Linked DNA regions of Homo sapiens. The protein of the gene in region 2 interacts with the protein of the main gene of each other region in a pairwise test. Each region holds a gene or a part of one and is shown on either strand. Other genes may lie near its edges.

What was found.
Region 1: the proteins of ENDOG (region 2) and ITLN2 interact in binary tests that used the Homo sapiens proteins (3 or more experiments, as listed by UniProt).

Annotation. Positions count from the first base shown.
Region 1 is NC_000001.11:160,951,343-160,958,990, reverse strand, and holds the start of ITLN2 (intelectin-2 precursor), read left to right. Parts: upstream 1-4,181; 5' UTR 4,182-4,249; coding exon 4,250-4,264; intron 4,265-4,540; coding exon 4,541-4,604; intron 4,605-6,257; coding exon 6,258-6,371; intron 6,372-7,648.
Region 2 is NC_000009.12:128,814,347-128,821,702, reverse strand, and holds the start of ENDOG (endonuclease G, mitochondrial precursor), read right to left. Parts: upstream 3,204-7,356; 5' UTR 3,019-3,203; coding exon 2,518-3,018; intron 2,053-2,517; exon of another isoform or gene 965-2,052; coding exon 855-964; exon of another isoform or gene 16-854; coding exon of another isoform or gene 1-15. UniProt on the Homo sapiens protein: Endonuclease that preferentially catalyzes the cleavage of double-stranded 5-hydroxymethylcytosine (5hmC)-modified DNA.

The DNA of each region.
Region 1 (7,648 bases), on a different chromosome or scaffold from region 2:
AAATAGATGAATCGACCCTAAGTAAGAACTCATTTAATGCCTACTAAAGGCACTAATTGTGATGAAAGGCGGGGTGGAGTGGCTCATCCCTGTAATCCCAGCACTTTGGGAGGCTGAGGTGGGTGGGTCACCTGAGGTCAGGAGTTTGAGGTCAGCCTGACCAAAATAGTGAAACCCTGTCTCTACTAAAAATACAAAATTAGCCAGGCGTGGTGGCACATACCTGTAATCCCAGCTACTTGGGAGGCTGAGGCAGGAGAATCGCTTGAACCTGGGAAGCAGAGGTTGCAGTGAGCGGAGATCGTTACATTGCACTCTAGTCCGGGCAACCAGAGCGAAACTCCATCTCAAAAAAAAAAAAAAATTATGATGGAAAACAATCCATAAACAATGTTGGGAAAAAAAAATTTGCAAGATGAAGAAAGATCAATTTAGATGTTCACCTCAGATTTACATGAAAATTAATGCCAGAGGTATTAAAAATGAAATTTAAAATATCCAGAATTGGCCGGGCTTGGTGGCTCATGCCTGTAATGCCAGCACTTTGGGAGGCTGAGGCAGGTGGATCATGAGGTCAGGAGTTCAAGACCAGCCTGGCCAACATAGTGAAACCCCGTCTCTACTAAAAATACAAAAATTAGCTGGGCATGGTGGTGCGTGCCTGTAGTCCTAGCTACTCAGGAGGCTGAGGCAGGAGAATCGTTTGAACTCGGGAGGTGGAGGTAGCAGTAAGCCAAGATCATGCCACTGCACTCCAGCTTGGGCAACAGAGTGAGACTTTGTCTTAAAAAAAAAATCCAGAATTTACAAAGAAAGGTACTAAGTGGATAATAAACATTTATGAATATGTAATGGAAGCCTCAGGTCCCCTTTCTTCCAGCTACGTTTTCATTGCCATTCCCAGTAGTTCTGGTACTGCGGGAAAAATCTACTGTAGAAAATTACCCAATTCAACTGAAGAGTGCCAAGGAGACCTATTTTTCTCCTGTGTGTTTCTGCATTTCAGCCAGTTCCTGGGCTCTCATCTATTCCTTATCATCCATCTGTTTGGGGATGCCATTGTTTTTGTCTGGTTTCCTTTGTCCTGTTGTTCTTTCCCAAACAGGACACCACATCTCTTCCTTTTTTCCTCCAAAGCATTGGTAAACACCAAGCTGTTGCATGCATTCTAACTTTTATTGAGTATTTGATGGTGGAAACATGGCTTAGAGTAATTACAACAAAGGGGAGAAAACTGTAAAATTTTGCATTGGCCATTTTCATTCCTAAAATTTTTTTGGATTGGAGGAAGCGTTCATGTGTGTTTTTTAGTACCACCTGGAGTCAATTTCTTTCATTCAACTAATGCATATTGAAGGCCCACTGTGTGCCAGGCATTGTGCATAGGCCTGGACATCTGGTGGACAACCACAGACATAGATTCTGTCTCTATAAAGAAGGAGACAGGTATTAAGCAAATACCTATATAAATACTCAAATAAAAAAATTCAAAAGTTTCAGGAGAAGGAGCTTACAAAATCTTTCCAATAATAGTATCTTAGTATTCAGAGACAAAGGTCCATCAGAGTAGTATGACATCTTCCAGGTTTGTCCTCTATCCTCGTCTCCTTAGATTCCTGTCTGAGTCCAAGAGAGAGACAGACTGCAAGAGACACTGAAAGAACAGTGTCACTGAGGTCACTGAGACACCTGGAGACATGTCCTGGTCTGGTGCCCATCATGGGAGCAGTGAGGCGTTTCCCTTCTCCAGCACCCTATGAGGTGGATGACTTCCATGCCTTGAATAGCAAGAGATGTGCCGGAGGCCTGGGAGTGAGAGGAAGCAGTGCCTTAAACACCAGCAACTTGTCCCGACACCAGATCCAGCATCAGAGGCAGCAGGGATGCCAAATCATACGGTTGGTGTTCAGCTGTGGTGTGTGCCTACTGTGGTTTCAGTAGGCAGTGCTGAAAGGAGTCAGGGTGGGCTGGGAGTATGTGTGGAATGGAGAAATGTTTGTTAGCACACACAAGATGCCCCTTGGGATTATGGACTTAAAAGGGGACCAGAAGTCTCCTTACAATGGGAGGGCATGAAAGCCAGAGAAATTCCTGTCTCATTAATGCTAACTCACCATGACCCCTGGGCTGATGATACTCTAGGGAAGTATCAGTTATGTTAAAAAGAGTTAACAGGCTGGCTCGGTGGTTCACGCCCGTAATCCTAGCACTTGGGCAAGCTGAGGCAGGAGGATCAAGGTCAGGAGTTCTGGAGTAGCCTGGGTAACATGGGGAGACCCCGTTTCTACAGAAAAGAAAAGAGTTTTTTTTGTTTTTTGTTTTTTTTGAGATGGAGTTTCACTCTTGTTGCCCAGGCTGGAGTGCAATGGTGTGATCTCGGCTCACTGCAACCTCCGCCTCCTGGATTCAGGTGATTCTCCTGCCTCAGCCTCCTGAGTAGCTGGGATTACAGGCATGCACCACCACGACCGGCTAATTTTGTATTTTTAGTAGAGACCGGGTTTCTCCATGTTGGTCAGGCTGGTCTCGATCTTTTGACCTCAGATGATCCACCCACCTCGGCCTCCCAAAGTGCTGGGATTACAGGCGTGAGCCACCGCGCCCAGCCCAAAAAAAGAGTTTTTAATAATATGATGTTGATAATTGTACTGTGGTTATACATGACATATTCCTATTATTAGAAAACACACAGTTGGCCAGGCATGGTGGCTTACACCTATAATCCCAGCACTTGGGAGGCCGAGGCAGGTGGATCACGAGGTCACGAGTTCAAGACCAGCCTGGCCAAGATGGCAAAACCCCGTATCTACTAAAAATACAAAAATTAGCTGGGCGTGGTGGTGGGTGCCTGTAATCCCAGTTACTCGGGAGGCTGAGACAGGAGAATCACTTGAACCTGGGAGGCGGGGGTTGCAGTAAGCTGAGACCATGCCATTGCACTCCAACCTGGGTGACAGAGTGAGGCTCTGTGTCAAAAAACAAAACAAAATAAAAAAAACCCATACGCATTTATTTAAAGGTAAAAGCCCATGATGTATGTACCTTACCTTCAAATGGTTCAGAAAAAAATTTTGTGTGTGTGGGTGTATTTTATATACATATATCTATATATATATAGAGAGAGAGAGAGAGAACACGAAAGATAAAGCAAATGGGGTGAAATATTAACAATAGTTGAATCTAGGTAAAGGGCATATATGTGGCTTTATATTATTGTTATTTTTGCAACATTTAATAAATTTCAAATTGTTTCTAAACAGAGTTAATAAAACAATAAAATTACAGCAGGATACATGCAATAATTAGTGTTTGGACAGTGTATAGTGGGACAAAGGAAGGATCCATCAGCTTTGTCTGGTGATGGGGGTGTCAGGGAAGGCCTCATAGAGAAATTGGAGGAAAGATTGGAAGGATGATGTCTTCTTTTCCCATTTATTTATTATTATTATTATTATTATTATTTTGAGGTGAAGTCTTGCTCTGTTGCCCAGGCTGGAGTGCAGTGGAGCAGTCTTGGCTCACTGCAACCTCCACCTCCTGGGTTCAAGCAGTTCTCCTGTCTCAGCCTCCAGAGTAGCTGGGATTACGGGTGCACGCCACTGCACCCAGCTAAATTTTTGTATTTTTAGTAGAGACAGGGTTGCACCATGTTGGCTGGTCTTGAACTCCTGACCTCAGGTAATCCGCCCACCTCGGCCTCCCAAAGCGCTATGATTATAGGTGTGAGCCACTGTGCCTGGCCAATTATTATTCTTAATTAATTAATTTATTTTTCATGAGGTGTCACCTCAGTCTAAAAGGATGATTTCTTGACAGAGTTGTGTCTAGGGGGCCAGGGCATCTGGGGGAGGTGGGAGAGGGAGAACGCAGGGGAGGATTGTGACCTATCCACGAATCTGATTAGATACTGCTACATTGTATGGCCTGCCTTGGCAAAGCAGGATGCCCCTCCTCAGATGGCGACAGTCACCTGTGTGGCCAGGAACACAGCTCCCTGCTCCTCCAGCCAGTCGCACGTCCTTTCTCATTTCCACGGTCCCAGGCTCAGGTACCCTCAGAGGGAAGGGCTTCAGAGGGAGGGGCTAGCAGCCTAGGCTGCTCAGGGTTGGGCTGGGCAGGGCTCAGGTGGTTTGGCTCTCCACAGCTCTCCACATAAAGGGACCAGCACTTCACCCTTCATCAGGATCCTCTGCAGGGGAGCTCCGAGTGTCCACAGGAAGGGAACTATCAGCTCCTGGCATCTGTAAGGATGCTGTCCATGCTGGTGAGAAAAATGTTTTTGATCCATGTGTGTGGGAGCAATGATGCCAGCTCAGGTCTCAGTTTTAGAGATTTAGAGTTTCAGGGAAATGAGCCCATGGCCCCTTGGGTATTTGTAGTGTTGGACAGCCGTGGGGCATATTCCAGGAGGTTTTAGAATGCTCATGAGCCCATCACTTTCCATTTGAGGATTCCTGACTCAGAAAGGTTAGGAAGTAAGAACGAGAGGATGACAAAGGAAGGGCCAGCCAGTGACCTTGTGCATCTTGTTTTTCCTTAGAGGACAATGACCAGACTCTGCTTCCTGTTATTCTTCTCTGTGGCCACCAGTGGGTGCAGTGCAGGTAAATGGCTTCTGAGAGTAGGAGCTGCAGTTTCCTGGGCTCCCCTCTGCTGTGCAGGGCCTGGAGGGAGTAGAGCTGGGCAGGGCTCTGAAGTCAAGGGTCAAAGGGGAAGTTCTGGAGAGGCAGGGAACCCAGGCTAGGCAGCCAACTTGAGGTGTGGACTGGGTGCTGATTTCTGGCCTCTCCTGGGGTCTGGTCTGAAGCAGTCAGGGTGTTAGCTCAGGTATTTCCTAGGGCTTGATTCTCTGCTTCTGTGGCTGTGAGGGGTTCATGGGGTGAGAGAGTAAGAACTGTGTCCCTGCTCAGCTGCTCTTGTGGCCTTGGCCTTGGGATCTCCAGAGGCAGCTGGGTGATCAGTGCTGTGTCCAGGGTACACCCTCCTCTAGTCGCAGAGGAGGATATTGTGAGAATAGAATCCTCACAATTCTATTCTTCCAGTAGGCACAATAGTGATATTTTTTCATTGATACTGGGTTTATTGTTTATTTCAATCCATCAGTTAAAAAAAGCACATTTACATATGTCATCTCATTTGATCTCCATGCGTATAAAGAAGTTATTAATGACATCTTAAAGATGAAGAAAAAGGATCAGAGATGTTAAGTGTCTGCTCAAGGAGGCACTGTCATCAGGGTTTGTCTGGATTTTACCTTGAGTCCTGTAATTTTTTTTTTTTTAGACGGAGTCTTGCTCTGTTGCCCAGGTTGGAGTGCGGTGGCGTGATGTCGGCTCACTGCAACCTCCGTCTCCTGGGTTAAAGAGCTTCTCCTGCCTCAGCCTCCCCAGTAGCTGGGATTACAGGTGTGCACCACCACACCCCAGCTAATTTTTGTATTTTTAGTAGAGATGGGGTTTCACCATATTGACCAGGCTGTTCTTGAACTCCTGATCTTGTGATCCACCCTCCTCGGCCTCCGAAAGTGCTGGGATTACCGGCATGAGCCACTGTGCCTGGCCTGAGTCCTGTAATTTTACACTTTTTCCCGCTCTGCCAGGCTTTTGGAATGATTTCTAGGCTTTTAGACTTATATACATGGCCCTTCATCCACTGGCCTCTGTTAATTTTTCAGCTTTGGTTTCCAGACTTCTTTGTATTACAACATATGTTCCAGCCACAATAAGCGACTGACCTGTAGTTTTTGGCAGGCTGGGCTGGGCTGGGCTCTGTTATTGCTTCAGGCCATCTCATGTGCTTTCTTCTCTTCCTGGGGTGTACTCTCCCCTTTCCTTCCTGTCCTGTAGCCAGCTCCCATTCTCCCATCAAAATCAGCCTGCTCTGAGTTACAGCTGGTCCCTTCCCCAGCAGTTCCCAGGCCTCACCCCCGTTAGTGGGTTTGCCCTCCCATCTCAGTTGGGTCCCTTTCCATGTGCTCCTTCCTTGTAGAATGTAGTCTCTTGAAGAAATGTGTCAAATTGTCTTTGTCCGGTGTCTAGGTAGTTCACACAGTAGGTATTTAATTAAAATTAGTCGAGTGGAAGATTCCAGGTGTTTAACCTATACCAGCTGTTGGATCAGACCGTCTTAGCATAGGGAATCCCTGACCTCCTGGGACTTCAGAGCAGAGTGATGAGTTGATACAGGGGCAGAGATTGGCCAGGAAAGATGGCCTCAGTGGTCAGACTTCTAATGAGACTCATTCTCACATTTTCTAGCAGCAGCCTCTTCTCTTGAGATGCTCTCGAGGGAATTCGAAACCTGTGCCTTCTCCTTTTCTTCCCTGCCTAGAAGCTGCAAAGAAATCAAGGAACGCTGCCATAGTGCAGGTGGTGAGTAATGAACCAACTCAGCATTCTCTCTTTGAAGCCACTTTTTAGCTCAACAGAGCCCAGTCATGGAAATCAGGAGGGACATATCCATATGGAGCCTGTTCTGCCCCCAGCTCCTACTCAAGGAGGTTTCTAGTGGGAATTTTGAGGCTTTTGTGTCCCATTCCAGTCACAAAGTCTTCTGAACACAGAGAGAATGCAGTGTTCCTGGTGATGCTTATGGTGGTGGCAAGAACTGTGATGCGTCTGAGATTTGCCCCTACTTGCCCCAGGTTTATAGATGCTGGCAGAAAACCTGAAACTCCCGAGCCAGAGACAAAGAGCTTTATTAATCACAGAAATAGCAGTAGCCAGAGCATCAGCATTTTCTTGTACTGGGCCAGGTGACATCTGCCCAAGTAGTGGGTTTGTCAAGCTGGCTGACAAATGTGGCTGGCAAGGAAACAACAAACCCTTTTTAGAGCCAGAGAGTTTATTACTCACATAGCTAGCAAGTTCAAGATCGGCAAAAGTGTCAGCTTTTCCCATCCCTTGCCCCACAAGACAGCACAGAAAAGAGGGCGAGTGACAACACAACATGGGCAGTGGCTGAGGAGCCAGTCCATGCTGCCATAGCTGTTTCATAGCCTGTGTACCCTACGGGGTGGGGGTGAGTGAGGCAAAAAGCCTCATACCTCTTCAGAACCCAGGAGATGATGACACAGTTATGACAGCTGTCTCATGACAGCCTCCACGAAAGATGGGAAGGGGGGTGAGAAGTGACCTTGTTGCAGCTCCTCACAAGGTTCCCATCTTTCCATGTTTGGGGAAGACCACAGGCTTTCTGCCAAGACTTAGGTCAGCTGTCCCTATGTGGCCTATGCGCAAATGTGCAAGGTCACCAGGATGCCACCGTGGAGCCAGTCTCCTGCAAGCTTGTGAACAGGAGGGGAACTCTGAGCTTAGGGAAGCTGAATCTTATGAAGTGGGCACAACCTTTGCTCTGAGCTGCACAGAGGCCCTATCCTGCTGTAGAATCAGATGTGGCGTGTGCTGATTTCTGGCCTCTCCTGGCCACAGGGTGGCACTGTCGAGAGGGAGATACCATCTCTGTCTCTTCTAAGACTATTTGCTCTACAAACTCTTTGAAAAGATAGTGTGAAGCCAAGACAGTCAGTGCCTCTGCTCATAGGTGAGCAGAACACAAGATGCATGGAGCATCGTCTTCCAGCAAGTATGTGTTGGAGTCTTCTGAGTGTGCTTTTGACTTCCTAGGGCTTTTCTATTCACGGAGCTGA
Region 2 (7,356 bases):
GACTCCATCCCGAGCCTGTGGATTCCAGAGTGAGCTGCTCAGCCTGGACCTGTTGCCTCTCAGCCCCAGCCCTCTGCAGGCCAGAAAAACCACGGAGCACACCCAGAGGTGCTCAGTTGCTTCCACCTGAGAGGCAGGGCTGCACAGGAGCAAGAGTGGAGGCCCTGGGTCAGGCAGATCTAGATTCAAACTCCCGAGAAGGGTGGAGGGAAGTGCTCCAAGCAGAGCAGAGACTGAAGGCGGGAGAGCCTGGTGCACCGCGGACCTGCAGGGGGAAGGCATGAGAGCTCGGTGCACTGGGGACCTGCATGGGGAAGGCGGGAGAGCTCGGTGCACTGGGGACCTGCATGGGGAAGGCGTGAGAGCTCGGTGCACTGGGGACCTGCATGGGGAAGGCGGGAGAGCTCGGTGCACCTCGGACCTGCAGAGGGAAGGTGGGAGAGCTTGGTGCACCGCAGACCTGCAGGGGGAAGGCGGGAGAGCTTGGTGCACTGCAGACCTGCGGGGGGAAGGTGGGAGAGCTTGGTGCACTGCAGACCTGCGGGGGGTTCCATATTGGCAGAACAAGATTGGGTGGGCATGCCAAGAGGTGACAGCAGGGAGAAGCGGGGGCAGATTCAGGGCCTGCTGCTGCCCATGGGCAGAGGAGAGATGGTCAGGGGTACCCGACAGGTCTTTGGCTGTGGAGGTGGAATGAGGGGACTCGAGGCAGGGAAGCTGACAGGCTTGCCAAGAAACCAGATGAGTAGGGAACTGGTATTGACCCAGAGCCTGGGGCAAGCCTGGCCCTGTGAGTGGCAGTAGGGGCCTCAGGTGAGTGGGAGGTTCTGCCGCCCCCCTGGTTTCCACCTTACCTGGGCAGGAAGAGTGGCCCTGTGCAGACATAGACGTTTTGGTAGCTGCGGGTCAAGCTGCGGCTATATTTCTCCAGGTTGTTCCAGGCATTCTGGTTGAGGTGGGGCACCTGGTAGGAGAGATAGGGCTTAGCAGGACTGTGGCTGGGACCCTTCCTCCTCTATCAGAGGGCCGCCCCAGGTCCTGAGGGGATGGACAGGCTCAGAGATATCCAGTGAGACAAGCGGGGGGAAACTGAGGCTCAAGGAATGAAAGTCACTCCCTGAAACCCAGGGCTGATAGAGTGCTAGCCACCACCCTCTGTCCCTCCCACAGCCCAGGTGTCAAAGTCTTTTCTCAGCTCCCAAGAGTCGAATGAAGGAAGAGCCTGTCTCCACCTTTCAGAGAGGACTGAGGCCTGTCCCCAGCCCCACCCAGGGTCTCCTGGGAAGACCAGCCCTTCCAACTACCAACCCGTTCCTTTTCCCAGTCTGAGCCACAGGAAGAGCCTAGCGGGGAATGCCATGAATCGACCTCCATCCTGAGCTCTCCAGGCCTGGGACAATGGAAAGTGGATAGGGGGCTGTCTTCCCAGAAGGAAGCTGGGTCAGAGGTTGGTGCCCCATGGGCTCCACCCAGAGCCCCATGGCAGTCTCCATCCATTGGTGCCAGGACCTGCTGGGAACAGGCTGAGAGGGTGGTTGGCCCAGTGCACAGTGCCTGGCACTAACAACCTGATCGTGGGCCAGGTGTCTGCCTCGAAACTGCCTGAAGGCAGGCAGGGTAGGACAATGTCTGGAGGCTCACGGTTTTATAGACTAGGGGTCCCCAACCCCTGGGCTACAGACCGGTACCAGAACCGGGCCACACAGCAGGAGGTGAGCAGCAGGCGAGCAAGGGAAGCTTCATCTGTATTTACAGCCACCCCCCCATTGATCCCACAGCAGCCTGAGCTCCGCCTCCTGTCAGATCAGTGGCGGCTGGAGATTGTCATAGGAGCTGGAACCCTATGGTGAACTGCGCATGTGAGGAGGTTGCGCGCTTCTTTTGAAAACCTAATGCCTGATCTGTCGTTGTTGCCCATCACCTCCAGATAGGACTGTCTAGTTGCAGGAAAACAAGCTCAGGGCTCCCACGGATCCTACATTACTGTGAGTTGTATATTTCACTATATGTTACAATGTAATAATAATAGAAATAAAATGTACATAAATGTAACGCACTTGAATTATCCTGAAACCCGCCCTCACCCACCAAGCCGTGGAAAAACTGTCTTCCACGAAACCGCACCCTGGTGCCCAATAGGTTGGGCGCTGCGGTTCTACAACAGACAGCCTTCTTCTGCTGTGTGACACTGTGCCCGTCACTTTGCCTCTGTGAGCCTCAGCGCCTCATCACTACCGCAGGAGGAAGGTGAATAACGGTATTATCCCCATTTTTTTGACGAGGAAAGCGACGCTCAGGGAGGTGCCCAGGGTTCGCAGTTGAAGCTCAAGCCCTGGTCGGCCTGCAGACCCTGTGCCTGGAGCCCAGTGCTCCTCCCTCCCGCCACGGGATGTCACTGCGATGCCTGACCGGGGGCGCGTTGGGCAGCTGCCCCGTTCTGCAGAAGAACAAACCGAGGCCCCGCGAGGCCAGGCGCCGGCCCCGCATTCCGCGACCGGCCCGGGGCGCGGGCGCTACCTGGGGCGCGACGTTGCTCAGGTAGAACGTGTCGTCCATGGCCTTCTGGCTCCAGCGGTGGTTGGCGGCGGCGGCCAGGTGACCGCGGTCGAAGCCACTGCCGCGGTAGTCGGCGTTGGTGGCACGGTGGTACGCGTGCACCGAGTCGTCCTCGCGGAAGTCGCACTCGCGCCGGTCGCCGTCGCCGCGGAGACGCTCGGGTCGCAGCTGCTCCACCACCCAGAGCGCGCCGCGGGTGCGCGGGTCGTAGCACAGCACGTACGACTCGCGGCTCTTGAGCTGCGCCAGCCCCGGCAGCCCGTACTTGGCCAGCTCGCCCGGGCCGCGGGGTCCCCCGGGCACAGGGGGCAACTCGGCTGCCGCCGCCACGGGCAGCACGGGCAGCCGGCCCAGCAGTCCCGGCGCCGCCCGCGCGTCCTCCCGCCGCCGCCGCCAGCCCTCGACGACCGCACCCAGCCCCGCGCCCGACGCCAGGGTCAGGCCGGCCCGCAGCGCCCGCATGGCCGGGGAGCGACCTAGCGGCGGGCGACCCGCGAGGCTCTTAAAGGAGCCGCGTCGCGGGATCCAACGAGGGCACAGGGCTGCTGGGGCCGCGGACGATAGCGTGACCTCCCTTCCACTCACAAACACTGCCAAGGGCTTGGGCCTCGGAACCCAGAAGGGAGCAGCAGAGCCCAACCGGGTGTCCCCGGCGTCCTTTCTTTGCGCATTTAAGACGCCGGTATGAGGGGCGTGGCATCGTCGCCTCAGCTCGCGATTGGCCACCATCAGGCCTGGCTCCGCACCCGCCTCGCAGGCCCCCTGCTGGTCGTGGGGTGGGAGACACTCTCTCCTCTGCGCCTGCGCAGGGAGCTCCTGCTTAATACGCTCCGCGGAAGGGTCAAGCACTGTCGAAAGCTTTTACTGTCACTGCTTAGTCTCACCCTCTACACCGCTCGGAGAGTGAGCTCCTAGTTCGCAGAGCAGGCACAGGGCCCCAGGTATATCTGGCCCTAGGCTATCCTCCATGACACCATAAAATAAGCCCCGCAATTCTACCAGATTGGCAAAGGTTTCTTTTTTTTTTTTTTTTTTTTTGAGACGGAGTTTCGCTCTGGTCGCCCAGACTCGAGTGCAATGGCGTGATCTCGGCTCACTGCAACCTCCGCCTCACAGGTTCAAGCGATTCTCCTGCTTCAGCCTCCCAAGTAGCTGGGATTACAGGCATGCGCCACCACGCCCGGCTAATTTTGTATCTTTAGTAGAGACAGGGTTTCTCCATGTTGGTCAGGCTGGTCTCAAACTCCCGACCTCAGGCGATCCGCCGGCCTCGGCCTCCCAAAGTGTTGGCATTACAGGCGTGAGCCACCGCGCCCGGCCCAGATTGGCAAAGATTTTAATTAACAGCAGTTTGAGGACAAGGATGCAGACGGCTGATGCTGGCTGCTGGCTGGAACAGAAACCTGGGGCGAATATTCCAAAAAACAGCTTGACAGTACAGTACAAGCGAAGCCTTAAAAAGGTTCATACCGTTCAACCCACGCAGAGGGCTGAGCTGGGGAAATCTCGGGAATGCAAGGATCTCGAACGCAAATATTCACCAGAGTATTACACTGCCGGCAGGAATAAGCAAAATATTCAGAAATATGGACTGGTTAAGGACTTTTATTTTTTGAGACGGAGTCTCACTCTATTGCCCAGGCTGGAGTGCAATGGCGTGATCTCCGCGCAGTGGAACCTCTGCCTCCCAGGTTCAAGTGATTCTCCTGCCTCAGCCTCTGAAGTAGCTGGGATTACAGGCGCGCACCACCAGGCCCAGCTAATTTTTTTTTTTTTTTGAGACGGAGTCTCGCTCTGTCGCCCAGGCTCACTGCAACCTCCGCCTCCTTGGTTCAAGCGATTCTCGTGCCTCGGCCTCCTGAGTAGCTGGGACTACAGGCGCGCGCCACCACGCCCAGCTAATTTTTGTACTTTTAGTAAAGAATGGGTTTCACCATGTTGGCCAGGCTGGTCTCGAACTAACTCCTGACCTTGTGATCCACCCACCTTGGCCTCCCAAAGTGCTGGGGTTATAGACATGGGCCACCCAACCCAGCCACTCTTAGCATTTTTTTTTCCTTTAAGGAAAATAAGGTCTTGTGCTGTCACCCACACGGAGTGCAGTGGCAAGATCACAGTTCACTGCAGCCTTGACCTCCTGGGCTCAAGCCATCCTCCTGCCTCACCCTCCCGAGTAGCTAGGACCACAGACACATATCATGATGCCTGGCTAACTTTTAAATTTTTTATAGAGATGGGGCCTCGCTATGTTGTCCAGGCTGGTCTTGAACTCCTGGCCTCCAGTGATCCTCCTGCCTTGGCCTCCCAAAGTTACAGGCATGAGCCACTAAGCCCTCCTGAGGTCAGTAGTTTGAGACCAGCCTGGCCAACATGGCGAAACCCTGTCTCTACTAAAAATACAAAAATTAGCTGGGCATAGTGGACCGTGCCTGTAATCCCACCTACTGGGGGACTGAGGCAAGAGGATTGCTTGAACCTGGAGGGCGGAGGTTGCAGTGAGCCGAGATCATGCCACTGCACTCCAGCCTGGGCAACAGAGTGAGACTCTGCTTCAAAAAAAAATATGGGACAGGGTCTTGCTTTGTTGCCCAGGCTGTTCTTGACCTCCTGGGATCAAGTGATCTGTGGGCCTCAGCCTCCTGAGTAAATGGGACTACAGGCTATGGTGTATCACCATACCCAGCTACTTTCAGCAATTTTGAAATATACATTAACTATAGTGACCATGCTGTAGTTTGTGTTTTTTTTTTTTGGAGACAGAGTTTTGCTCTTGTTGCCCAGGCTGGGGTGCAATGGCGTGATCTCGGCTCACCACAACCTCTGCCTCCCAGGTTCAAGTGATTCTCCTGCCTCAGCCTCCCGAGTAGCTGGGATTACAGGCATGTGTCACCATCCCCAGCTAATTTTTTGTATTTTTAGTAGAGACAGGGTTTCTCCATGCTGGTCAGGCTGGTCTCGAACTCCCGACCTCAGATGATCCACCCACCTCAGTCTCCCAAAGTGCTGGGATTACAGGTGTGAGCCATCGCACCTGGCCATACCATGCTATAGTTCTAAAAAAAAAACATTCCTGGGCCGGGTATGGTGGCTTAGGCCTGTAATCATAGCCCTTTTGGAGGCCAAGGTGGGAGGATTGCTTGAACCAAGGAGTTCAAGACCAGCCTGGGCAACATAGTAAGACCCCCGTCTCAAATTAAAAAAAAAAAAATCCTCCTGTCTAGCTGAAACTGTACCCTTTGACCAACATTTCCCCATTCCCCACCGCCCCAACTCCCACCAATCCCCAGACTCTGGTACCATCATTCTACTCTCCACCTCTATGAGTTGTTTTACATTCCGAATATAAGTGAAACCATGTCGTGTTTGTCTTTCTGTGCCTGGCTTATTTCACCTACCGTAACGTCCTCTAGGTTCTTCCATGTTGTCACAAATGACAGAATCTCCTTTTTTTTTTGAGGGTGAATCTCGCACTGTTGCCTGGGCTGGAGTGCAATGGCACAATCTTGGCTCACTGCAACCTCCCCCTCCCAGGTTGACGCAATTCTCTTGCCTCAGCCTCCTGAGTAGCTGGGATTACAGGTGCACACCACCACGCTCGGCTAATTTTGTTGTATTTTTAGTAGAGATGGGGTTTCACTATGTTGGCCAGACTGGTCTTGAACTCCTGACCTCGTGATCCACCTGCCTCAGCCTCCCAAAGTGCTGGGATTACAGGCGTTAGCCACCACGCCCGGCCTTGTCTTTTTTTTATAAGCCATTCTGACAGGTGTGAGGTGGTATCTCATTTTGGTTTTAATTTGCATTTCCCAGATGATCCATGCATTGTTCAGCATTTTTTCAGATAGTTGCCAGAAATTTTTATGTCTTTTTTTATTTTTTTTTGAGACAGAGTCTGGCTCTGTCACCAGGCTGGAGTGCAGTGGCTCGATCTCGGCTCACTGCAACCTCCGCCTCCTGGGTTCAAGCACACACCACTATGCCCATCTAATTTTTGTATTTTTAGTAGAGACGGGGTTTCACCATGTTGGCCAGGATGGTCTTGATCTCTTCACCTGGCGATTCGCCTGCCTCAGCCTCCCAAAGTGCTGTATGTCTTCTTTTGAGAAATATCTATTCAGGTCCTTTGCGTGTTGTTTAAATCACATTGTTTTCTTGCTATTGAGATTTTTGTTTGTTTCTGTTTTTGTTTTTTAGACAGAGTCCTGCTCTGTCACCCAGGCTGGAGTGCAGTGGCACGATCTCGGCTCACTGCAACCTCCGCCTCTGGGTTCAAGTGATTCTTGTGCCTCAGCCTCCTGGGTAGCTGGGATTACAGGCACCCACCACCACTCCTGGCTAATATTTTTGTAGTTTTAGTAGAGACTGGGTTTCACCATATTGGCCAGGCTGGTCTTGAACTCCGGACCTCAGGTGATCCACCCGCCTCCGCCTCCCAAAGTGCTTGAATTACAGGCATGAGCCACCATGCCCAGCTGCTACTGAGATGTTTTAAGTACTTATATATCTTGGATATTAACCCCTTATCAGATGTATGGTTTGCAAATATAATCATGCATCACATAAAGATATGTAATCCAAGCTACCCTGGGATGCTGAGGCATGAGAATTCCTTGTACCCCGGAGGCTGAGGTTGCAGTGAGCTGAGATCGTGCCACTGCACTCCAGCCTGGGCGACAGAGCGAGACTCTATCTCAAAAAAAAAAACAAACCAAAAAAAGTATGCCAGGCTAGGTGGCTCACACCTGTAATCCCAGCACTTTGGGAGGCCGAGGCAGGTGGATCACAATGTCAGGAGTTCAA